Homo sapiens: one gene and its partners. The protein of the gene in region 7 interacts with the protein of the main gene of each other region in a biochemical or structural test. Each region holds a gene or a part of one and is shown on either strand. Other genes may lie near its edges.

Region 1 (3,500 bases), on a different chromosome or scaffold from region 7:
CACAAGTATAGACTCAGTTCGGTCTGTCCTTGCTAAAAACAAAGTTTGTTTGTTGGATGTTCAGCCTCATGTAAGTAAACAATGAGCTATTCAATACCCTTCTGACCCATGTCATCTACAGCACCTCATGTGAGCATTTCAGTATGAAATAATATGAAGTCAACTCACTTTTGGCATATATGTGGCTTTTCTGAGATGGCAAAAGCATTTAAATATAATTGGAGACATCTTTGGTGGAGAAAAAGAAAAGCCCATAATATTATTAGAAAGAGAAGTGGAGGAAGCTCCAAGACCTGTGTTTGTAACTCTTATTTATATTCAGTTTTTGTCAAGTAAAGCAACTCTTAGATGTTTCTACATATTCTGTATTTTTAAAAAATACATCACATTGTTACATGCATAATGCATTCTTATGTGTTATGTATTAGTAACAGTGTCTATAATTTTTAACGATGGACATTTTGGTTCCAAGTCTTTGACTTTGGTTCTGTATATATCCTAGCAAATAACCCCCCACTAGAACTGAAGGGCATTTTGCAGGAAATGTACTGAATGAAAGCCCCATTGCAACTGCCATGTCTGCACCTGTCATCCTGGAAACTCCATTATGAACATTCTGAACTGAGAACTTCAGTGGATGAGGCCATTCAATTCCCTATCAAACCATACATCTTCCAGCAGATCCCCAGCCCACAGCATTTTCCTCATCCCCCAGGGACCATGGTTTCTCCTTCCACTGATGGCTGTACCCTGGGGTGCAAAACCTCCAAATGCTAGAATGACCTGCGGAAGCCCTTTGGACCTCTAAAGGAAGATGAATCTGGAGTAAAAGTGTTTCAAGAATCAGGAAGGCTGCCTCCTGACTTGGGCACTGTGTTAGTCCCTTGTTGCACTGCTCTGAAGAAATACCTGAAACTGGGTAATTTACTAAAAAAAAAAAAAAAAAAAAAAAAAAAAAAGAGGTTTAATTGGCTCACTGCTCTGCAGACTGTACAGGAAGCGTGATGCTGGCATCTGCTCAGCTCTGGGGAGGCCTCAGGAAACTTGCAATCATGGCGGAAAGCAAAGGAGGAGGGTTGAGCACTTCACATGGCCAGAGCAGGAGGAAGAGAGAGAGAGGAGCGAGGTGCCACACACTTTTAAACAACAGGGTCTCACGAGAACTGACTATTGTGATGACAGCACCAAGGGGGATGGTGTTAAACCCCGGGAAAATGCCCCTATGATCCAGTCACCTCCCACAGGCTGCACCTACAGCAGTGGGGATTACATTACAACATGAGATTTGGGTGTGGACACAGATCCAAACCATATCAGGCACCAACAGTGAATGGGACAGTCCTGCTTATGCAGAGCCTCTCTGCTGGTGTCCCAGGTCCAGTTGCTGTCAGACTCCCACAGTGTAGTATCAGCTCATGAATAATAACTTTCAGCTCTCACCCTCTGTAGATAGGTCCCCAGAAGTATAGAGTATAGAACATCAAAGATTTGATGAAGGAATCTAGACAGGCATCATGGAGAGCAGGAGGCTGCCCTTGTAGGGTACTCTGAAGGATAGGGTGAAAGAGGAGAACTCCTGCCTGAAATCAGAAAGGGGCTTAAAAGGGATGGTTGGAAGACATTTGTGGACAGAAAGTTATTTAACTCATCACACCTTTGGAATATTTGATCTAAAAACCAGTTTTGTGATATTTTTAGTCACTTCTGTTCAATGTTAATTATGATGTATTTCAGAACATTTTAAAATGCCAAGTTACATTCCCCAGCTTCTTTTCAGAAGTGTTTGTTACATTTAATTGTCAACAGTTAATTGAATAATAATATATTGAAATGACTACTGACCTTAAAGAATAATTTTGAGGAATTTTCTCCTAGAAAGAAAATTCAGTAATTCATGATGCTATGGAGAAATGTGAGAAAACTTTCTTTTCTTCCTTGTAGACAGTGAAGCATTTAAGGACACTAGAATTTAAGCCCTATGTGATATTTATAAAGCCTCCATCAATAGAGCGTTTGAGAGAAACAAGAAAAAATGCAAAGATTATTTCAAGCAGAGATGACCAAGGTGCTGCAAAACCCTTCACAGTAAGTATAATGATGCTTGGGGGCCAGGTGTGGTGGCCCACACCTGTAATCCCAGCACTTTGGGAGGCCGAAGCAGGAGGATCATTTGAGTCCAGGAGTTCAAGACCAGCCTGGCCAAGGTGGTGAAACCCCATCTCTACAAAAAATATGGAAATTAGCCAGGCATGATGGTTGGACACCTGTAGTCCCAGCTACTTGGGAGGCGGAGGTGGGAAGATCATAAGACCCCAGGAGACTGAGAGTGTAGTGAGCTGAGATCACACTACTACACTCCAGCCTGGTAGGCAGAGGTGGGAAGATCACAAGACCCCAGGAGACTGAGAGTGCAGTGAGCTGAGATCACACCACTACACTCCAGCCTGGGCGACAGAGTGAGACCCTGTCTCAACAACAACCACAAAAAGCTTGGAGATAAGATATAAGCAGTAGATAAGATGTAAGATACAGTTGTATATATGAAAACATATATACAGCTGCATGTACTTGGGAAGAGTATAATAGATACAAAAATCAGTGAAAGAATTGTATTTAGGTACATACCTTTTGAACAGTTACACTTCTTGTGCTTTGGTGAATGGATCTTCATATTCAATTGACTCAAAACTATTTTGTATACTATTATGTGAACATTTCATACTATTGTAGGCTGAACATTTGTATAAAATCTAGACCAATTAATTTTCAGAGCAGCCTTATTTTTAAAGCTAAAAATACCATCAGTAACTGTTACTCATTAAGAGTCCAAATGAAAAATTTAATAATGTGCCTTGCTTGTCTCCTTGTGTCAACAATTATATTTAGCACAGCAAAAGAAAATCACTATTTTGGGTATAGGATAAGTAGACCAATATTATTCAGCAATAATATTTGTATTTTCTATGAGTGTTATTGGAAATGATGATTGTGGTATATTCATGACTATTATGGGTTCTGGCAAGACCTTTTATTGTTTTTCTTCTTAATCTTAATATATTCTACCTTTGGACCAAAAATCAAAAGCAAAGAAATTAAATGTGAAGAGCTTATTTTTTTCTTGCCCCTCTTAATTAGCTCATCATTAACTTTAGTTTATATTAATTTATGAACTGTTCATTGTGGTTACAAAATACAGATCACATTTCTGATTCCCAGTATATTTGATAAATACCTTTTTTTACATGCCAACAGTACATATCCGTTCTGAGTAGGTACTGTCATACAATGTTAGTTACTCAGGCTCTTGATCAACACTAAAATTAAATTTTCTGTTATTGTGAAATCTTATGTGACAATGAAATGCAGACTCAAATTATTTCAGCATGTTGCAACATAAAGATTTATTGTACTATTTAGACATTTTAAAGGTTTCTCAACGAAGATAAGAAAGGATCACATATTCTTAGGATTTGGCTCTCTTACATTTATGTTATATAGCC
Region 2 (3,500 bases), on a different chromosome or scaffold from region 7:
TTGGCCAGGCTGGTGTTGAACTCCTGACCTTGTGATCCGCCCGCCTTGGCCTCCTAAAGTGCTAGGATTACAAGCGTGAGCCACCACGCCTGGCCAAAGAATACTATTTCTTGACATGTGAAAATGATATGCTAGGCTGGATATGGTGGCTCACACGTGTAATCCCAGCTCTTTGGGAGGCTGAGGCAGGAGGATCGCTTGAGCCGGGAGTTGGAGACCAGCCTGGGCAACGTAGCAAGACCCCATCTCTACAAAAAATGTTTAAAGTTAGCCAGGTGTGGCGGTGCATGCCTGTAGTCCCAGCTACTCAGGAGGTTGAGGCGGGAGAAGTTCTTGAGCCCAGGAGGTCGAGACTGCGGTGAGCTGAGATCACCCCACGCCACTGCACTACAGCCTAGGCAACAGAGCGAGACTCTGTCTCAAAAATAAAAAAATGCAATTCAAATTTCAGTGTGCATAAGCTGGGCGCGGTGGCTCACGCCTATAATCCCAGCACTTTGGGAGGCCAAGGTGGGCAGATCACTAGGTCAGGAGTTCGAGACCAGCCTGGCCAACATTGGTGAAACCCCGTCTCTACTAAACATACAAAAATTAGCCGGGCATGGTAGTGCACGCCTGTAATCCCAGCTACTCAGGAGGCTGAGGCAGGAGAATCACATGAACCCGGGAGGCGGAGGTTGCGGTGAGCTGAGATCACGCCATTGCACTCCAGCCTGGGCAATAGAGTGAGACTCTGTCTCTAAAAAAAGAAAAACAAATTTCAGTGTACATAAATAAAGTTTTATTGGTACACATCATGCTTGGTTATTCATGTGTTGTCCATGGCTGCTCTGATGTTCGAATGGCAGAGGTGAGTAGCTGCAGCAGATACCTTGTGACCTACAAGGCTGAAAATATTTACTCTTTGGCCCTTTACAGAAAATGTTTGCCAAGCCCTGCCCTAAAAGCATGGGAAGAACAATTTCTGGCCCTCTGGAATGTTCTAGACTTTTTTTTTCAGTGGTGCAATCTCAGCTCACTTCAACCTCTGCCGCCCGGATTCAAGTGATTCTCCTGCTTCAGCCTCCTGAGTAGCTGAGATTACAAGCGTCCGCCACCGTGCCCAGCTAATTTTTATATTTTTAGTAGAGACGGCGTTTCACCGTCTTGGTCAGGCTGGTCTCAAACTCCTGACCTTGTGATCCACCCGCCTCGGCCTCCCAAAATGCTGGGATTACAGGTGTGAGCCACCGCGGCCAGCCTCTGTTCTACACTTCGCTAAGGATATAGGTCAGATAGTAAGTTCTGGCCGGGAAGGGTGGCTCACATCTGTAATCCCAACACTTTGAAAGGCTGATGTGGGAGGATCGCTTGAGCCCAGGAGTTCGAGACCAGCCTGGGCCACACAGCAAAACCCTGTCTCCACAAAAATAAAATCCCCCCCCAAAATTAGCCAGGCACGTGGCATGGGTCTATAATCCCAGCTACTTGGGAGGCTGAGGTGGGAGGATCACTTGAGGCTGCAGTGAGCTAAGATTGTGCCACTGCACTCCAGCCTGGGTGACAGTGAGACCATGTCTCAAAAAAAAGAAAAAAAAAAACAGTTCTGTGGTTGCAGAGAGAAAAACTGGTTTGAACCTATAGCTCTAAGAAGGTTCTAGAATCGAGCAGAGCTGTGACACCTAGGGAGTTCCAGGGCTTGGCATTTTGTCTGTTTCTAGGGTAAAGGAATCTGGGCTGATGAGAATGCTCAGAATTGGTGAACAGAGGCATCTGGTTCTACTCAGACTGGAGAATTCTAGAACCATGGAGGGAATAGTTATCTAGTGTTCTATAACCCTGGGCAGAGCTGTCCAATTATAGTGTAATCAGAAAGTTCTAGATGGAACTACAATAGAAATACAACGTGAGCCATATGTGATTTAAAATTTTGTAGTTATCCACGTTAAAAAATTAAAAACAGGTGAAATAACTTTTTTTTTTTTTAAACTGAGACGGAGTCTCGCTCTGTCGCCCAGGCTGCAGTGCAGTGGCACGATCTCAGCTCACCGCAACCTCCGCCTCCCAGCTTCAAGCGATTCTCTCGCCTCAGCCTCCTGAGTAACTGGAACTATAGGCATACGCCACCATACCTGGCTAAGAAATTAACTTTAATAACATTTTAATTAAGCTAACATATTTAAAATATTATTTCAACATACAATCAATATTTTTAATTTACTTTTTTATTTTTTTGAGACACAGTCTCACCTTGTTGCCCAGGCTGGAGTGCAATGGCGCAATCTTGGCTCACTGCAACCTCTGCCTCCTGGGTTCAAGTGATTCTCCTTCCTTAGCCTCCCGAGTAGCTGGGATTACAGGCGCCTGCCACCATGCCCAGCTAATTTTGGTATTTTTAGTAGAGACGGGGTTTCACCATGTTGGCCAGGCTGGTCTCAAACTCCTGACCTCAGGTGATCCGCCCGCCTCTGCCTCCCAAAGTGCTGGGATTACAGGCGTGAACCACCATGCCTGACCTTAAATTACTTTTTTTCATACCAAATCTTCAATATCTAGTGTGTATTTTCTATTTACATCTCTATTCAGTCGAGCCACATTTCAAGTCTGTGATAGATACATGTGCCTGGTGGCTACCACAGTGAATGACGTATCTCTCTAGAACCCCAGAGTGGAGCTCTTGTTCCAGAATGCTTAGATCCTGAAGGATAGTGGGCAGAACCGACTGTGGTGTAGGGTGAATTTCACTTAGTGGTGTCCAGAACGGGGCCCTACACCCGTGGTTCTAAACCAAAGAGCCGTAGTTACTGGTTAGAATGTTCTAGGGCCACTGGCAGAGCTGTCTGGCTCTGGGTAGCTCAGGGAATTCTAGAACCATGAGAGTAAAGCTTTTTTTTTTTTTTCCTTTTTGTTTTTGGAGATGGAATCTTGCTCTGTCACCCAGGCTGGTGTGCAGTGGTGCGATCTCTCTCGGCTCACTGCAACCTCCACCTCCTGGGTTCAAGTGATTCTCCCGCCTCAGCTTTCAAGTAGCTGGGATTATAGGCACGCGCCACCACGCCCAGCTAATTTTGTATTTTTAGTAGAGACGGGGTTTCGCCATGTTGGCCAGGCAGGTCTCGAACTCCTGACCTCAGGTGATCCACCCCCCCCCCCCGGCCTCCTAAAGTGCTGGGGTTACAGACGTGAGCCACCGCACCCAGCCAGGAGTAAAGCTTTATGTAGTTCTGGGCTGGGTTGGGAGTATTCTGGAACTGTCTAGAATTCTCCTGGAACAGAATTGTTTGTTCCTTGACTGGTCAGGTAATTCTTAGAATCCCTGGTGTAGCCAAAGGTGTGAACTACTGAAGGAGATTCTAGAACCACAGGAAGAGCTGCCTGACGCGATTGTGATTAAGATGTTCTGGAATCACGGAGCAGAGAAGTCTGATTCTAGAGTGATAATAAGATTCTAAAACTCCTGACAGAATTGCTATGAGACCTGTCAGAGAGTTCTGGAATCAAGGGTCAGAACCAGCTGGGGT
Region 3 (3,500 bases), on a different chromosome or scaffold from region 7:
CTCTCGCCCAGGCTGGAGTGCAGCGGCACATTCTCAGCTCACTGCAACCTCTGCCTCCCGGATTCAAGCGATTCTCTTGCCTCAGCCTCCCGAGTAGCTGGGATTACAGGCATGCACCACCATGCCTGGCTAATTCTCTATTTTTAGTGGAGATGGGGTTTCACCATGTTGGCCAGGCTAGTCACGAGCTCCTAACCTCAGATGATCTGCCCGCCTTGGCCTCCCAAAGTGCTGGGATTACAGGCGTGAACTACCACGGCCTAATTTTTTATTTTTTGTAGAGGTGGTATCTTACCATGTTGCTCAGGCTAGCCTCGAACTCCTGGGCTCAAGTGATTCTCCCACCTTGACCTCCCAAAGTGCTGGGATTATGGGCATGAGTGCCCAGTTTGTTTTTCAAATTGAAATATAATTCATGGCTACTTGTGAAAAGTTTTCATTGTGAAATAGTTACAGAGAGAAATATGTAAAAGTCCTGGGAACCTTTAAATTACTAAATCTGATAGTCTTTTCCTCATCTTGTCTGACCTCTGTGAACTATTTGTCACTGTTGACTGTGTGTTCCTTGTTGACATTTTTTTCTTTTTTAATATTATAATATCCATTCTGTTACTGCTTCTCTAACTGCTCTCTTGTGTGTCTTTGTCTTGTGTTTTCTCTTCCTGTTCCTGAAATGTTCCTTGAGGACATGTCCTCTGTCCTTAGCTTGATCCTTTATTGTGCTCTATTTAGCAGGCTCATTCTGTTTGTAGATGTTGAGGATGTAGAACAAGGGTCTGCAGTCCTCTTTATTTATGGCATTGTGTCACAGAACATCCTTGTAAAGTGAGCTGAGTCTCTTTAGGTGTGACCTCTTTCCTTAGCTCTACATTTCCATTTTTGTGCTTAACATTTCCACCGTAGACTCATCATTTGTGTTCTTAACATTTGTGATTTTTTTTTTTTTTTGAGACAGGGTCTCACTTTGTTGCCCAGGCTGGAGTGCAGTGGTGGGACCTCAGCTCACTGCAACCTTCGCCTCCCAGGCTCAAGTGATTCTCCAGCTTCAGCCTCCCCAGTAGCTGGGATTGCAGGCGTCCGCCACCACGCCTGGCTAATTTTTGTATTTTTAGTAGAGACGGGGTTTCACCATGTTGGCCAGGCTGATCTCGAACTCCTGACCTCAGGTGATCCACCCACCTCGGCCTCCCAAAGTGCTGGGATTACAGGTGTGAGCCACTGTGCCCGGCCTAACATTTGTGAGTTTTATAATTTGATAGTGACCTTGAAAGTTCATAATTTGTAATAATTTATGATTTTAAAAAGGCCAAAATTTTCATTGTATGTGTCGAGACTGGTTGAATTCTATTTATTTGGGTAGTAAGAGCCCAGCTGATCAGCAAGCATCTACATCTCACACGTAACTTTTTTTTCCCTTTCTCATGACATGGAACAGTGCTTGTTACAGTTTTTATTATACTAGTATTTAAGAATACGTTCTAATCAGGATGTAGGACTTGGATCTCCAGAAGGTCAGTGGTTTACTGTATCATGAAAATAGAATAATTTCTGTGTTGAAATGTGCTTCTCTCTGTATCTTTCCTTTTTGTCATCCAACATGAAATTATATCCATGGCTTTTTTTGTTTGTTTTATTTTGAGATGGAGTCTTGCTCTGTCGCCCAGGCTGGAGTGCAGTGGCGCGATCTCGGCTTATTGTAACCTCTGCCTCCCAGGTTCAAGCGTTTCTCCTGTCTCAGCCTCCTGAGTAGCGCATGCCTGGCTAATTTTTTGTATTTAGTAGAGATGGGGTTTCACTGTGTTGCCCAGGCTGGTCTCGAACTCCTGAGCTCAGGCAATCCACCCGCCTTGGCCTCCCAAAGTATTAGGATTACAGGCGTGAGCCACCGTGCCTGGCCCACATCTGTAGTCTTTTACTTCTTCTCCTTTGACTCCCTTAGCCAGTCTGGCATTAGGTTCTCTCGATTCTGCCTTCATGAAATCTTTCAAACCATTATTCCCATTGTCACTACCTTAATTTCATATTTATAAACTTTAGTCTTGGTTGTTGCAGTATCTTAACTGTATTTACTCAGTCTTCAGTCTCTTAACCTCTAATATATTTCACGTTCTATTAACAAAAGATTGGAACTCATTGCCTCCCTGGCTAATGGTAAGTGCTTTATAAATACTCGTTAAATGTTCATTTCATTTCTCCTTATTCATATACCTTCATTAGCTTCTTATTACCCATAGAATTAAGCCTGAAGACCTTGGCATTCAAGATCTACTTGATACTTAGCACTTTTTGTTAGAAGAGTCAGTTAGTTGCCACTTCTCTTGGTTCCTTAGGACCGTCTGCTTTTCTCGATCATGGCATACAATATTAAAATTATCTTGTTTCTCTCATTAGTAAGTTCTTTGAGAGTCAGACTGTTCCATTTACTTCTGTATACCTAGGGCTTAGTATAGTACTTGAAACATAGTTATTTGTGTATTTATTAGAAACATAGATATTTGCTCAATGTCCTAATTGATTGTAAGTCAGTCAAATGAATTCCTCTGAGGCTGTCTTAATCATCATGGTATCTTCAGCCTCTAGTATTTTAACTGGTATGTAATAGACATTCAGTAAGTAATTGTTTATTGTTAGGCACTTTGATATACTTTAATTAGTCATCAGTTTGAGAAGCTCTTTATTCTCTGCTTCCGCATATTAAAATTCTACTCAGTTTTCCAGGCCTAACTCAAATGCCACAGAAACTTCTGTGAGGCCAGGTGTGGTGGCTCATACTTGTAATCCCAGCACTTTGGGAGGTTGAGCAGGCGGGTTGCTTGAGCTCAGGAGTTTGAGACCAGACTGAGCAACATGGTGAAACCCCATCTCTACAAAAAATACAAAAATTAGTCGGGGTTGGTGGTGCGCGCCTGTGGGCCCAGCTACTTGGGAGGCTGAGGTGGGACCCCTGGAAGTTGAGGCTGCAGTGAGCCAAGGTTGTACCACTGCACTCCAGTCTGGGTGACAGAATGAGACCGTGTCTCGTAAAGAAAGCAAAAAACAAACAAACAAAAAACAAAAACAAAACCACACACCCAAAAAGAAACTCTTCTGCAAAGTTGTTTTTCCACATGGGATCCTAGGAGGATCCTTAATTGGGCTTCAGGAAATCTGTGAATGTCCTGAAATTCCAGTTCTCAAAATTCTGTGGTTTAAAAGTGAAAGCTTAGGTTCCAAGAGATCAAATGCAAAAATGACTGGAAAGCACATAATAAGTAGGTGCTTAATAAGTAGTCTTATCTCATTTTGTTTCTGTAACATATTGTTTGATCCATTCCTGGTCATATAAAGTAGATGCTGAATAAATATTTGCTGAATGAAAGGATGAATCAGTGTTTTAGCACTTTCAACTTTCTGTGTTCATTTGTATTTCATTTTTGCTTTTAAGTTGCATGTTATTGAAGGTAAGAACTATGTCATCATTTTGTCTAACAATGCAGAGCTAAAGGCTTTGCTCACAATAG
Region 4 (3,500 bases), on a different chromosome or scaffold from region 7:
AAACAGCTGAGTTCAATTAGAAACTTTCTAAGGAGAATAGCATCGCCATTACATTAACCTCCTACCCCTCAATAAATGAAACCCCAAACCAAGACCCACAAGCAATTCTGGAAGAAAACAGGCCAAAGTCAGAAATGTCTTCGGGAAAAAGAATAAATACACAGTAAATATAAGGCCCATCAAGAGTGGAGTTTGTCTTCCGCTTGCCTCACAAGACCCTACAGGCTCCCTAGAAATTCCATTTCTCAACTGCTATAAACTCTAACCAGTGATAGTACAACAGTGGTCTCTACACAGGGGCCACACATTTCAAAGATACAAATGCCCTTGAGATGCAGAGAAAATACTTCTACATCTATTTATTTTTAATATTAATCTTCTTAAAATGTACATTTGTTTTATGTCCATAATATCTTAGCACAGTAAAGTATATGTTTATACATACAGATATATTATACATATACACACACACAAACGTGCATGCAGATATGTATACATGTATACGCATACATACATGAACACTTAGACAATTGTGTATAGATGGGATGCACGTTGAAAAAAGTTTGAGAACCTTGAGAACCTGCTAAAAAGAAACCACTGTTTCTTGCATTAGGCCATTTAAACACCTGAAACAGGTAGCATTTGCCCTGTACAAAGAATCAAAACTATAATTCCTAAAATTACTTATTAGAAACTTCAATACGGAGAGGACAGTATCCCAAAGCTATTCCTGAACAATGTGAATACCCACTGTTCAACAAGGAACCAAATGTGTTATCAAAACCACCTCCAGAAGACAGTGAAAGTAGTTATGCTGACTTCACAGGACACTATGTCTTAAGCATTAACCAGAACTTTCTTTTAAAACTCCACACAATAGTTCATCTCAGCAGACATAATCTTTTATTCACCCAGGAGTTCTTACTTTCCACAATAACAATTTTTAACACTGGCTCTTTACCTAGATATTTTTACTTAAGAGTTTGAATAAACTACCAGATAGCTTACTTCGGACTGTTCTGATTTCTTGAGGAACTCAACTAAATGGGGATATTTCTCAGAAGATTAAGCAAATATGTAGAAGTGAAAAATATGGAGTAATCTAATGGGCAGAGTTCAAGACACCCCTTTTGGCTAAATGTTTATTAGTAAAATAGGAAGAGAAGTATATCAACCAATTAAAACAAAACCGGAAGAGACTGTGGTGTTCTTCCCCACTATCTGAAAGCAATTCAACACAAGAGAATACCAAACCAAAAAATAAGCTGAAGAAAGTCCAACAATATTCTGATTTTTCCTAGAAGCACTGCAGTTCCTAAGGCCTCCGGAGGTCACAGATCACAGTGTGACCCTAGTGTCTCAATCCAGTCAGTCATTTAACACATTTTCTTAATCATATGCAGAAGAGAGTGCTCGTTACTAGGGACACACTGAAAATGAACTCATTATTACTCAGCATAACTTGGTCAGTAGAACCAGCAAAGGAGGTTTGACACACTCTTTCAGGATATCCATGTGGAAAGGTGGAGCTATATGGGCTAGTTATAAGATATGAAGAGCATTAGTAGTTAACTATAACCGAGAGTGTGACTCCTTGTAAGCCTCGAGGGAAGCTTCCAGAGACACACTTCGTGTTGTTCAGCCAGTTTAACAATTTCATCACCGGCTTAAGTAAAGATATAAAAGAGTCTGATCTAATAATGTACAGACAGCATTTCTTTGGGAGGACAGGTAAAGGTGCCAAATAATATAATCAAATTCTAAAAAGCATGATGGAAAGAATCAGCTAAAATAAAGCAAAACCACAGCGCAATAAATGTTAGGTTTTGCAATGACATCAGCGCAAGATGGAAAGACGAGGTTCAATGGCAGCATGTGATTAACGGCTCGGCAGGTTTTAGCGAAAAGGAAACTCGTTGAGTCTGGCCACCAGAAAAGTAAATGCAAACTTGGACTACATCAGTGCAAGCAACATGCAACCTATGACAAGACACTCCTGCTGTACTCTACACAGGTCATGTTCACGGGTCACGTTACACCAAGAGCCCAACTCTGACAGAGACTGAAGGATTTGTTCTGTAGGCCACCAAGGCAGTAGAATTTGAATAAACAAGCAGAATCAGATTTCAATTCTATAGGCCAAAAAACTTTCTAGTACTCAAAACCATTAAAAGGTGGAAATCACCACCCGTTACTTGCAATGTTCAGGTATTACCGGAAGACCACTTACAGAGATTATATAAAAGGATCCAAATATCAAAGAAGGGTTAGTTGAGCTACTCAGTGATTTCTAAACCCCGGTCCTTAGTGAATTTTTCATTGACCCATGCAAAAGAAAAAAGTGTCTGTGTGGGGATAGATATAAATCCACGAGTGGGGTAATTTTAACACAGCTCCTCTCTGGATAGGAAGAACTCTCCTTTAAGTCTGACAGCATACATATTCTTCCCCCTTTCCCCACCTTTTCTCTTTTTTGGTACATCAAAAGGATTTTGACGAAATGCATTGACAATAGGTAGTAACTGCTGTTGTCAATTTTAAACACACTTATGTAGCAACATTAAATGCTGACATATCTGACAATCCCTAATATTTGCTTTTTTTTTTTTTTTTCATTTTACAGGTAGACGAAAACAAAAGGTATAGGAACAACATGACGAGACAATCTTTAAGGTCCTTTCTGGCCCAAAGGAGCATGACAACTAGACTCGACTTGCTGCATATTTTCTTCCTTCCTACCACCCAACTTGGCTATCTAGTACTGGGGGAGAAGAACGAACCAAGGAATTGGGTTGCACTAAATATGAAATCTCTCAAGAAGCAGAACCTCAACAGTGAGTCAAGATCTGGCTCCCTTCTACAGCTGCTGTTCTTTGGAACCAAAGTTTATGAATCCAGTTCAGAAAGGATCAAAATAATCTATGTCTAAAGTTGGGAAGCTTTTAAATTCCTACCACATTGTTACCACACTTTTAAAAGGAGTCACAGCTACATGCAACTGGAACACAAAAAGCAATTTCTGAATCATTGATTTCAAGGTAAACCAAGTAGCTATGACCCTCATGCAAAGCATTCACATACAAACTTACTATAGGCCAAGGCAAAGAAATGACATAATCATGAAAAATATAAACATCCCAGTCAGACAGGCATTTTCATTACTCTAATGCGTTCGTCTTAAACCTTAAAGAAACCCCAAATTTTGGTGCTGAAAGGGATCATGAAAATAGTTTCATCCAAATTCATTTGTGACAGGTGGTAGAGGCAGGAAGCTCAAGGTTCCTGTCTGTGCCTAAAGCTTTTTCTACTCTCACTCTGCAAATGAATTAGGCACATTAACAGAAGTAGAAAACCTAGAACATGGTTCACTATTCTCTAGGACTGTACTTTGTATTTCATTGAAGTTCAAAACAGAAAGAAAAAAAAAAGCAGCTTTTCAATTAACAATACCCTAGTCTAAATTTTCTTCAAATTCAGTGTGTCTTTAAAAGGATTTGTAA
Region 5 (4,265 bases), on a different chromosome or scaffold from region 7:
GCACCTACTTCTGCCCACGCTCAGATCCCTCCTAAGAGGGCTGCCACAGGCTGGGACCAGAAGAGGACTGACATTCTGGAGGCAGGGGCAGCCAGCCCCAAGCAGCTGGACACAGCCTGGCTAAGGTCTGGGCCCGTGGGGTTTGCCAAGGCTAGGAGGGCTCAGGGGAGCCCAGGAGGCCTGGGTTAGGACGTTCCCCATAGACTTTGCCTACACCCCCTCCCAACTCCCACATCCGTTCATCCAGATCTCCCCAGGGAGGGGTAACTGGCAGGGACTGGGGGTGTGTTGAAGAGCACCTAATGACTCAAAAGTCCCTACCTCCTTTCTCTGCCACCCCCTTCACACAGCCCTCACCCCCACCTGCCCTCACTCCCAGCGGGGGAGCCATGTTTAAAGGCTAGGAGAATGACTACCCTCGCTAGGCTGAGATGCTGTCCTGGCACCCCCCAACCCAGCACCTCACCCCTTTGGACCATGGCAGGGGCTGGGTGTTGGTGACTCACCGCTGCTGTTCAGGACTCTGGCTGAGATTCTTCCAGCGGAATCCTGAGCCCTGGGCAGTAAGATGGTCAGAAGGAGCAGGTAAGGCGGGACTGTCCTTGAGCAGACACTGAGAGGTTACCCTGGACACAGCGACCCACTTCCTGTCTGCCCCTTCCCAGCTCCACATCCACACCTGTTTTGGTGCTGGTGGAACTATTTGCCAAGTGCCACTACTGGCACCACTCCTCAACTTTCTCTACAGGCCTTACCTTCATACCTGGGACTGCAGGGACACAACCATCCTCCTGGGTTCCAGATCCATGAACCTCTAAGCCCTTGCTGGTTTCCACACTGGCAGCAGGTGGGGAGATCATTATTCTAAAATGGTCTCCACCCCTAGGGCCCATGTCTGTAGAGGCTCAGGCCATCCAGACTCCCAAAGCTGAGGCAGGGGCTCTTCCCCAGTGGGATTCAGAGGATAGGTGTCCCCTGGGCTCACCTATCAAGGTGCTCCGAGGACCTTCTGCCAGTTGGGTCTCTCCATCTAATTTCTCAGCTACAGACAGTGGCTTGGGAGGGCTGGGGTCAGGGACCCTGTCCCGAAGGGCTGGCAATCCCAGCCAGAATGTGGGGTCAGAGGTGCCAGGTCTCCTAAGGTACAGGCCGTTTCAAGGACCAGTTGTGGATCCCAGCTGCAGGTGACCAGCTGTGCCCAGCTATACCTGGGTCTCTCTCTCCATTGCCATATATTTTGTGCTTTCTGGGACAAAACATCTTAGATGTCAAACTTGTCAGCAAGTCTCACTAAAGGACCGAGACTGGGAGTTCTTTAGGGGTGGTGGTGGGGGGTGTGGAGGAAGGATGAGAGATGAAGGTTCCTGTCTCTTCAGGGTCCTTGATAAACTAAAGTAGTCTCTCACCCTCCCTAACTTTTTGGTCCTGGGAGGAGGTCCAGTCCCAGAGCAGCCCTTTTCTTTGGAGCCTGCACAGCCCAGGGCCTTTCTGTTCTGTGCCTTTGCTAACCCTCCCCCAAAGCTGCCCAAGGCAAGGAAGAGAAGGTTCAGAACCAGATTGGCCTCAGGGGTGGGGACAGTTCCCAAACGGCCAGGGAGGAAGGACTGGGCAGCACAGAGAGACCCCTTTGTCTTTCAACATGATTTTCATAAAATGCAAATTCTCAACAAGCTGTTCATTGTGTGGGGGCTAGCTGGGGGCCGGGGCGAAGGAGGGCGGCTGGGTGAGGAAAGGCCACCAGGCCCCTCTTCTTAACCTGGTGTTGTGTAGGTTCTGAGCCTCAGGTCTCCTGGGGCCAGAGGAAGAGGCTGGCAGAGGGGACTCAGAGGTGGGCGCGGCCCGCATCCTTCCTGCCCCGCGGGCGCCCTGCGACCCCTCCCACTGCGTCCGGTTCCGACAGAAGTCCAGGGAGCAGTGGCCCTCGCGCCCCGTACGTCAGACGTGGGGCCAGGCGGCAGGCCCCCAGCCCAGGAATCGGGGAGTCCCCTCGGAAGGGTGTGCTATCCGGAGTCAGCGGCTCCCCACGCACTTCCTCAGAGTGAGAACGCACGCGGCGCAGCCACCGGCCCGCTTCTCCCACCGGGGGCTCTCGGACCTTCAACTTGCCTGGGGCTGTCTCTGTCCCTCGGGCGAGGGGCTCCTGGGGACCCAGGACACCTGGCCACGGGGAGGCGGGGCATGGGGGGCAGAAAGCCAGATGGAGCGGGTAGGAGAAGGGGGGTGCTGGGAGGAGTCAAGGAGGGAGAGAGGGGGCGTGCATGGGGCGCGGAGTTAAGAGCCACCGAGCCTGGGCGCGGTGTGCAGGCGAGGGCCACGGCCTTCGCAGCAGCGGGGAACGCGGGGAGTCGAGGCACCCAGCGGGCCGGGGAAGAAGGTGGGGGACTCCGCGGACGCCGAGGAGAGGGCACTGCGGAGTCAGCAGGCCCTGTAGGGAGTCGGAGAGGGGCTGAGCAGATCCTGAAGGCGGGCGGGGGACGCACCTTTCGGCGGGGCAGGGTGCCCCCGGACACGGCGAGCGCGCGGTACAGCTCGGCAGGGTGATAGTCCTCCAGCGCCGCGTACAGCTCGTCCGCTGGGGGCCCAGGGGTGGCGGCTGCGGCAGGGGGTCCCGGGGTCGGGACCGGAGCGGCGGGCGCGACTTCCGAGTCGGGAGTCCGGGCGGCGGGGTCCGGGGTGGCCGCCGCCTCCTCCTTCTGCTGCAGCTTCCTGAGTCGGCGGAGGGTCATGGCTCCGGCGCCGGACGCCCCTCAGAGACGGCGCTGGCTCCCCTCGGCGGGGCTGGCGGCGGCTGGGGGATGCCAGCCGGGCGGGCCGCGGGTCGCCTCCCTTTATAGGCTCCGAGAGCGGGGCGGGGTTGGGGGCGGGCGGGGAGCTGCCTCGGGTGGCCTCGCCCCCAGCACGGAGGACCCTCCCCGCGAGGCGCCGCCGCCCTGGAGCCCCGCCCACGGCGCTCGACGGCCGGGGAAACTGCGGGAGCTGGGCGCTCAGTGGGGGAAAACGAGCCGCGGACGCGAAGGGGCGGGATGAGGCCCCCGGGGCGGGGCTCGGGGCTCGGGGCTGCGTGATACCTGGAGGGGTCTGTGAAGGGACATTGCGCAAGGTTTGAAATTTAGGGACGAATAGCTCTGGCGATTCATGGAGTGGGGCACGGTAAGAGGTCACTGTAAGAAGCCTGGGGAGTCGGGGAGGTAGGGAGAGTCACGGAGATCCAAGGGGCTGCAGGAGACTCCAGGGCAGGGAGAGCGGCAGCGGGGCTGCGCAGGAGTAGGGGTGGAGGCCCGATGGAGGAGGGAGGAGACTCCCTGAACTCACTGCGCAGAAGCCCCCAGGGAGGGAGAGGGCCCAGGATTTTCCCTTGACGCAGCTGCCCCAGAAGAGCTGAAAGAGGCTGCCCCCTGTTCGCACGTCTAGGAAGAAGGGAAGAGGTGGAAACCCTGAAAGCAGTAGGCTTAGTTCTGGCCTGTCCCCTCCAAGGGGCTTGAGTGATCCCTGCTGGCAACACCTTTCCTCAGCTCCTGATGCCGGGGTCAGATCCCCCTTCCCAGGAGACAGACGCTTACTGTGGACTTGACTCAGGAGGTTGGGATGAGCCCAGGCTGAGTGGGAGTTCAGGGCTGGGGGGATGGCCATGCTCAGCCGTTCTCTGACCCCATCTTAGGGACCATCCCCCAGGCTGTTACCATGGCTGCCAGGCGGTAGGAGAGGCGGGAATGGCCCAGCCGAAGTCTCTGTCGTCAGTGGTGCCCGAATAAGAAGTGAGAGGAGGAAGTGGAAGGCAGCGTCTGGTGTCTAAAGAGCGGCTAGCCACCACAGGGCGTCAGCAGCACAGGCTGGGGACTCCATGTCCCAACACCCATCGGCCAAGAAGCAGAGGCGGCAATGCGGTGCCCTTGTCTGTCCCCTCCCTCCTCCCCCAGTCTTCCCAAATCTGTTATGCCTTCACAGTTAACATTTATTGAGCACTTAGCATGTGCTATGCACACTGTTTGTTCTGTGTGTCCTTTTACATACATGCATTAACTCACTTGGTCTTCATAACAACCCTACGAAATAAGCACCATTATCCTCCCTTACAGATGAGGAAACTGAGGCCCAGAGAAGATAAGTAATTTGCCCTAAGTCACTCAGCGGCAGAGCTGAGATTCAAAGCCAGGCAGCCTGGTTCCAGAGCCTGCAATCTAACCACTCTGTGATGTTGTCCAACATTTAAGCCCTGCTGTGTGCCAGGTACTGGCTGGGCACTGGGGTTACAGAGGCTCTTGGCC
Region 6 (2,921 bases), on a different chromosome or scaffold from region 7:
CTCCTCAGGCAAGCAGGTCTCGGGCCCTGGGCTGAGCAGCCCAGAAAGGCACATCGCGCAGCTCTGCTTCTGAGCGTTGCCCTCCCTCCCCCGCCGGGATCTGTGTGGCCGATGTAGGTTTCCGCTGCTCCTGCTCCCGGCAGGGGCTTCCTCCATCAGCCATTCCCCGGCGTTCCTCAACCAGAAACCCACCCCGAGGCCCCTCGCAACTGCAAGCCTTGTTTATCAGCGACTCATGTTCCGCGTGGGCTCAGAGCTGCTGGAAACAGGCACCATAACCTCGGCAGGGCTGAAAGGATTCCAACGCCCCGGCCGCCTCCTGCCTCTTCCCCGTTCTCCCGCCCGCTCCTCCACGGGTGGATTTCCTCACAGGTGTGGGGCTGCTGGCCGTGGGGGCGGCCGCTTCAAAGCATCTACTTGGGAACACTGGCTTTTCCTTTCTTTGAAGCCATCAAAGGGAGGCTGGTGTCCGCCTGGCCCCTCCTCCTCCTGAGCCAGACCCCTGCCCCCACCAGTCCAGGGAAAACAGGCCTCCCAGCTCCCAGCCGACCCTGCAGTGCACAAAATACCAGTGTCCCGATGTGGCTCCTGGAGACCTCATCCGAAGAACAGGAACTAGAGACCCCTCCACCCACCCGCCCACCCACAGGCTGCAAGGATGGTCGCCACGCACTCAGCCTCACAGAGCCACCAGGGGGAGCACCACAGACGGCCCGGCCTGCTGCTGCTGTCCCCAGACCCAAATTCCCTGCCCGGTCCCCAGCGGGCCCCTCTGTAGGCCGGGCTCCTCAGCTCTCAGCCTCCCGCCTCGTGCGGCCACCACGCTTCCCAGAGAGCCTGCAGCCCCTTTGTGCTGAACACCCCTTCACACACCCCTACACACACACAGACACACCCACTCACACTCTCCTCACACCCCATGCCTCACACCCACTCACAGACCCACAGCCACAGCCGTGCACACATACACACTCATGCTTGACACCCCATGCTCACACACACCCACAGCCACACACCCCTGCACACACCCACACTCGCACTCCTACACACCCCATGCTCTCACACACACACGTACATCCGCATACACTCACCCACACACACACACTCCTCCACACGCACACTCAGGTACATTCACACAGCCACACACCCACACCCATCCACTCATGCACCCCTATACACCCACGTGCACGCACACACTCATTTCCCACACCTACCCACACTTACCCACACTCATACATCACATCCCACACACACCCATGCTCTCACACATCCACATGCACACACCCACACTCGCTCACACTACACACACACACACACGCACACCCGCTGCGCACTGGCCAGGCCTCCCCCGGTGTATGTGCCACCTCCCCAGCACCATCCCCCCTCCCAATGATCCTGCCTCCTTGTGAGCTCTGGAGGAAAACCTGCACCTCCCCCACACCATCCTCACACTGCCGTGGAAGCGATGCCAGAAAGAACTGGACTGTGGGGGGTTCAGCCAGTGAAGTGGGACAGGGCAAGCAGCCTGGCTGTGGGAGGGGATGGCCAGCAAGGGCAGAGAGGCAAGCCTGCCAGGGTGGCCAGAGCTGTGTGCCCTGCAGAGCTTCTGAACTGGACATACAGGTCCAGTCCCAAAAGTAGTGTCCAGGGAGCACCCCCAGCAGCCTGTGCCCTCCCGGTTGCTCAGTTAGAGCCAGACCGGGATGGCTCCGCATCACCTGCCGCTCCATTCACCCTTGTCACAGCAGCCCCGATGGGAGACACAGCCTGGCTGACCTTCAGATGCCCTGTGTCCTCTGGAGCGGGGGAGGCTCATGGAGGGCAGGCGGGAGCACGTGGGAACCGGCATGCAGAGGCACACTCAAAGTCCCTCCTTACCTCTCCGACCGAGTTGGACAGAGCTTGGACTATCTTCTCGTGGGCTGTGGCCACCACGCTCTGCCCGTTGATCTCGATGATGCGGTGGCCCACACGGACGCCCCCTCGCTCAGCAATGCCCCCTCTCATGAGGCTGCAGATCTAAGCAGACATGGCCAGGTCAGCACACGTGTTCCCGCCACACCCGACAGGCGCTCCACCACGTCCCCAAAGATGGGACATGCAGAGGGAAAAGCGCCACATGATGAATACGTGCACGTGCAATTCGCTGACTCACAGACAGAGATCCTTATGATATGCAGTATGTTTCTTTAAAACAAGAGAGTTAATGCCATGGTGTGTGGGGAACCACCAAGTTTTCTGACTCCCACGGTGGAACCTGTCCCCCAGCTGCACCTCCCCCAGGGCCGCTCCCTTTGTGGTCAGGCTAGAGACTGGTGACACAGCCCAAGGCCACTGCCACCTGGCCTCCTACGGCACAGCCTGGTTACCATCCTGGAAGACAGGCACTTAGCTGATGGGCGGGCGGGAAAGGAGAGGCAGCCTGTCCCCTGGCCACCAGAAAGGTGGGGCATCTGTTCTGTCAAGGGAAGGCTCTGTTTGCCGGATGCCCAAATGGTCTACATCGACAGGGAAGAGTCACTTTATTCCTACATCCCCCCCCCGCCAAGTGACGTAAGGGCATTTTGTGCCAAATATACTGGTTCTGGTTTTGTTGGAGACAGGGTCTCATTCTGTCACCCAGGCTGGAGTGCAGCGGTGGGGGCTTCCATTCCAGCCTAAAAGTGACGCCAAACAGATGGACAGGAGGGCCTGGGAGCGCCTGTGACCACGAGACTGGACAGAATGGAAAACAGGCGCCGTGCACACCCGTGTTCACAGCAGCAGTGTTCACAACAGCCGAGGGTGACAGCACGGACTAGCGGAGAAACAGAATGTGCTCTAGGCCTGCAGGGAAACAGTACTCAGCCCTGGAGAGGAGGGAGAGTCTGAAGTGTGCTACAACACGGACAGACCTCGGGGACACTATGCTGCATGAAACA
Region 7 (4,090 bases):
AGTGGTTGGGTGTGAGGGTGGATGGCTGTATGGAGGAAGGATGGATGAGTGGATGAATGGGTGAATGGATGAGTGGATGAATGGATAATAGGATGGAAAGATGGATGGATGGATGGATGGATGAATGGATGGATGGATGGATGGTTGGATAGATGGATGGATAAGTGTGAAAGTAGATGATTGGATGGATGGATGAACAGAAGGGTAGATGGGTGGGTGACTGAGCGGATGGGTAGATGAATGAATGGAGGGATAGATGGGTGAATGGGTGGATGGATGGATGGATGGGTGGATGGATGGGTAATGGGTGGGTGGATGGATGGATAGACGAATGGGATGGATGGATGGGCAGATGATTGGGTGGATGGATGGGTGAGTGAATGAGTGGATGGGTGAGTGAAGAAGTGAATGGATAGAGGGATGGCTGGGTGGATGGGTGGGTATATGGTTGAGTGGGTGGATGAACAGATTAATGGATGAATGGGTGACGGGTGCATGGATGGATGGATGGATGGAATGTTGGGTGATGGATGGGTGGAGTGAATGAGTGGATGAGTGGATGGGTGGATAGATGGACAGGTGGATGAGTGTATGGGTGGGTAAAGAAATGAATGGATAGAGGGATGGAAGGGTGGATGGATGGACAGATGGGTGAATGGATGGGTGGGTGGATGGGTGGGTAGATGGATAGATGGATGGGTGGATGGGTGGATGGATGGGTGGGTAGATGGATAGATGGATGGGTGGATGAGTGTGAGGGTGGGTGATGAGTGGGTAGATGGATGGATAGGGTGTTTGGGCAAGTAGGATAGATGACTAGATGGATGAGCAGGTGGGCACATGGCTAACTACATGGATGGGCACACATCAGTAATTTGCCAGAGATTTGCCTTGGGTACACATACATCCTACATGGTCCCTGCAATCCCAAAGATGCAATTTCCCCACCTGTCAAAGGGATCCCCCTGCCTTCCTATCCAGTGTGCCGTGAGAATCAGAGAAGAGGTTGGTGGGAAGGGGCTCTGAGGATCTCCACGGTGAGCCACCTGACATGCTTCTCACCTCCGCACCTCCCAGCCATGGAGTTCATGGGGCCTGCCCTTTCCAAGGTTACAGCCGAGGCTGGTTTGTCACACTGGTTTTTCTGGCTGGAATTAAGGCAACTGTTGGTGAGTCACCCCCACATCATCAGCCTCCTGGGACAGGTGACAGTGGTTTACAGGCACACAGACCTAGATTCAAATCCCAGCTCTGCCCCTCATAAGCTGTGTGACCTTGAGTGAGTCACTTCCCCTCTCTCAGCTTGTTCTGAAATGGGATGGCCTGCCTGGTCTCTAGTGGCCCTTCAGTCCCTCTTCACCCTCCAAGTCCCCCAATCCCCAGCCCCTTCTTCCCCATCCCTCATCATTCTGGGAGCAGAAGCCACAGGCCTACACTTTGCCTCTCTCAGCCATTCCATCCTCAAAACTGATGGGGACACAGAGGTTCAGAGATGGATGGGTGGATGGATGGACGGGTGGATGGATGGACAGGTGGATGAGCTGCAGAGTTTCAGAGAGGTTCTGTCACAAGCCAACATCAAACAGCTGGGGACCTCCACGGCAGGGACTTGGGTCCACCCCCTTCCCCGAGTGAGCCAACACTGTGCTTGGCCCTGCATGCTTGGCAGCTGGCTGCAGTCATCCCGATGCTCACAGCCCTGCCTTGGAGGAGGGACAATTCTCCCCTCTGGACAGATAGGAAAACTGAGGCTGAGAGAAGCTAAGTCACCTGCACAGTCACCTGGAGCTGGAACTCTGAGCAGCGAAGGTCGGATATTGCCACAGGGCCATGGGGAGCCAAGCAGGGGTGGGGGCCAGAAGTGTGGGCAGCAGCATCTATCCACATCCTGCTGGTCACCTGGCTTGCACCAGGCTCTCCCAACCTCGTCCCTCACTCCCTACTACCTGAAAGGGGCATTCCCCAGACCACAAATCCAGCTGGATTTGTTTTTATCTAGGAGGAAGGCAAAATTAGCTCTACTCTACACAGGGGTACTGAGACGTAGAGCAGAGAAGCGAATTTCCTGAAGTCACAGGGCAGGGCAGCACCCTGCAAACAGGAGCCAGCCTTCCGGATGCCCTGGCCAGAGCTCCCGCCACCTGCAGGGGCCACAGCAGCCGCCATGTGAGCTCACCCCGCCAAGTCCCACAAATGCTTCCCGGGGTTATGGTCACAATCCTGGATGGGGAGGTGGGCTGCAGGGGCAGTGCTTCCCCATGACCACGACTGAGGGCCAACAGGCCGGGCTGGCCCACAGCGTCCCGCAGGGGAGGGCAGGGCCTGGGCTGAGGATGGGGCTGAAATCCCCCACGGAACAGGGCAAGGCACTTCCCCTTCCTGAGGCTCAGCTTCCCCTGAAAAATGAGGCTGGTGTCGCCTGCCAGGCCTCTCAGAGGGTGTGCCATGAAATTGAAGGTGGTGACGAAGCTGCAGTCCGGGCACTGGGCCTCGCCCCAGCGGGTCTCTGGGAGGTGGCAGCCGTCACCCTCCCTGGAGAGGCCTGGCAGCCCCCCAGCTGACTGGGGCCTGAAACTCCCCATCTGCAAAATGAGGAGACCCCACACACCTCGGGAGACTGTCACGAGGGTAAGCCAAGCCCTGGCTTCAGTATCTGTCCCACAGAGACGATGCAGCAGTGTGGGTCCTGCAGGCGTTCACTGTGACCGGCGTTCCTGACACCACGTAGGCACTGAAAGCAGAAACAGGCTTCCCAACAGGACGGAAAGCTGACTGTGCCCAAGCCTCCCTGTGGCCTGCTGGATGTCCTCAGAAGCCCCCCTGGCCCGCAAGGAGCCACAAAACGCACAAGGGCAGGATCTGCCTCGCTGTTCCATGCTCGGGATGCGCCCAGCCCACAGAGGATGCTCAGAAAGTGGAAGCTGCAGGAACCTTGAGTGACACTGACCCCTCACATTCTGTGGCGTAAAGATGGGGGCTGGACATATGGACCCCAGAAAGAGGCTGCACCAAGCGGCTAGAAAAGGCAAATGTCCACCCTTAAGCCCTGAGGTGAGGCCAGGTCAGAAGATTCTGGCCCCACAGGGTGGACGACAGTCACACCAAACACCAGGGAATGTTTCTGACGGTATTTTTATCTTGAGAACATCCTTCTTCACAGAGGGTGGGGGCAGGAGGGACAGAGGGTGTCCTTGGCCCCAGGCCCCTGGGAGAAGCAGAGAACAGAGGCCCTGCAGTAGTGCCCTCTGCTGGGGTGGCCATCACAGACACTGCCCCATCCCTGGGCTCCATTAAGTCCCACGAACAGGGGAGACCTGGAGGGTCTTGGGGCCCTTCTAGGACTCCTGGCTCTGCCCCAACTTGCTGTGTGACCTGGAGCAGGGCTCTGTCCCTCTCTGGGTCTCCCTCTTCAAGTCCTCACTGGGCACCGAGGACTTGAAGAGGAAGCATTGGGCGCCTGCCTTCATGGGGCACCCTGCCTCACAGGGCAGACGGTGAGAAGTCAGCAGTCATAAGTCGCTGGGCCCTCTGGAGCCCAGGGGAGGTGTCTAACCCAGTGGCAGGAGGGGTGCTTCCTAGAGGAGTATCTGCCAGTGGGGAGGCAGCAGCGAGCAGCAGGGGTGACAACCCCGCCTGAGACTAACCATAGCACAGTGACACAGCTAAGAGCACCAGAGTCCTGCAGTCTTGGTGCAGATTCCAGCTTCACTCTCCAGGCACTGGGCCTTGGGCAAGACCCACCCTGACTGTGTGCAAACCAGGGGGCTGGCCCAGCTACTCCACAGAAGCCCTGCCAGCCCTCCATTCCAGGATCTAAACTATTCGGGGTTTGTGGGGAAGGTGTGACGAGATGGGCACAGCCTTGACACCATCATATCAGGGAAGCTCAGCGTGTGCAGGCACAGAGGCTGAGGCATCACCCCAGGGGGCCTCAGATGTCATATTAATGAGCCTAGACTTGATCCCAAAGGCAATGGGGAGCCCAAGGGCCATAAGAGAGCTTGAAACTATAAGAGTTCTGGGGCAACAAGGCATGAATTCAAATCCTGTCTCCATCCCTTCTTGTGTGGCCTTGGGCTAGCCACATAAC

Evidence for each region.
Region 1: the proteins of KCNJ18 (region 7) and MPP7 interact in a test that uses a peptide from one of them, tested with the Homo sapiens proteins (one large-scale study listed by IntAct).
Region 2: the proteins of KCNJ18 (region 7) and APBA3 interact in a test that uses a peptide from one of them, tested with the Homo sapiens proteins (one large-scale study listed by IntAct).
Region 3: the proteins of KCNJ18 (region 7) and MAST2 interact in a test that uses a peptide from one of them, tested with the Homo sapiens proteins (one large-scale study listed by IntAct).
Region 4: the proteins of KCNJ18 (region 7) and SIPA1L2 interact in a test that uses a peptide from one of them, tested with the Homo sapiens proteins (one large-scale study listed by IntAct).
Region 5: the proteins of KCNJ18 (region 7) and TAMALIN interact in a test that uses a peptide from one of them, tested with the Homo sapiens proteins (one large-scale study listed by IntAct).
Region 6: the proteins of KCNJ18 (region 7) and APBA2 interact in a test that uses a peptide from one of them, tested with the Homo sapiens proteins (one large-scale study listed by IntAct).

Annotation. Positions count from the first base shown.
Region 1 is NC_000010.11:28,055,065-28,058,564, reverse strand, and holds part of MPP7 (MAGUK p55 subfamily member 7), read left to right. Parts: coding exon 1-70; intron 71-715; exon of another isoform or gene 716-919; intron 920-1,941; coding exon 1,942-2,085; intron 2,086-3,500. UniProt on the Homo sapiens protein: Acts as an important adapter that promotes epithelial cell polarity and tight junction formation via its interaction with DLG1. Involved in the assembly of protein complexes at sites of cell-cell contact.
Region 2 is NC_000019.10:3,755,193-3,758,692, reverse strand, and holds part of APBA3 (amyloid-beta A4 precursor protein-binding family A member 3), read left to right. Parts: intron 1-3,500. UniProt on the Homo sapiens protein: May modulate processing of the amyloid-beta precursor protein (APP) and hence formation of APP-beta. May enhance the activity of HIF1A in macrophages by inhibiting the activity of HIF1AN.
Region 3 is NC_000001.11:45,806,612-45,810,111, forward strand, and holds part of MAST2 (microtubule-associated serine/threonine-protein kinase 2), read left to right. Parts: intron 1-3,500. UniProt on the Homo sapiens protein: Appears to link the dystrophin/utrophin network with microtubule filaments via the syntrophins. Phosphorylation of DMD or UTRN may modulate their affinities for associated proteins. Functions in a multi-protein complex in spermatid maturation.
Region 4 is NC_000001.11:232,623,634-232,627,133, forward strand, and holds part of SIPA1L2 (signal-induced proliferation-associated 1-like protein 2), read right to left. Parts: intron 1-3,500.
Region 5 is NC_000012.12:52,005,481-52,009,745, reverse strand, and holds the start of TAMALIN (protein TAMALIN), read right to left. Parts: upstream 2,801-4,265; 5' UTR 2,727-2,800; coding exon 2,481-2,726; exon of another isoform or gene 2,091-2,480; intron 1,925-2,090; exon of another isoform or gene 986-1,924; intron 557-985; coding exon 507-556; intron 1-506. UniProt on the Homo sapiens protein: Plays a role in intracellular trafficking and contributes to the macromolecular organization of group 1 metabotropic glutamate receptors (mGluRs) at synapses.
Region 6 is NC_000015.10:29,112,974-29,115,894, reverse strand, and holds part of APBA2 (amyloid-beta A4 precursor protein-binding family A member 2), read right to left. Parts: intron 2,020-2,921; coding exon 1,879-2,019; intron 1-1,878. UniProt on the Homo sapiens protein: Putative function in synaptic vesicle exocytosis by binding to STXBP1, an essential component of the synaptic vesicle exocytotic machinery. May modulate processing of the amyloid-beta precursor protein (APP) and hence formation of APP-beta.
Region 7 is NC_000017.11:21,691,233-21,695,322, reverse strand, and holds the start of KCNJ18 (inward rectifier potassium channel 18), read right to left. Parts: upstream 2,801-4,090; 5' UTR 2,609-2,800; intron 1-2,608. UniProt on the Homo sapiens protein: Inward rectifier potassium channels are characterized by a greater tendency to allow potassium to flow into the cell rather than out of it.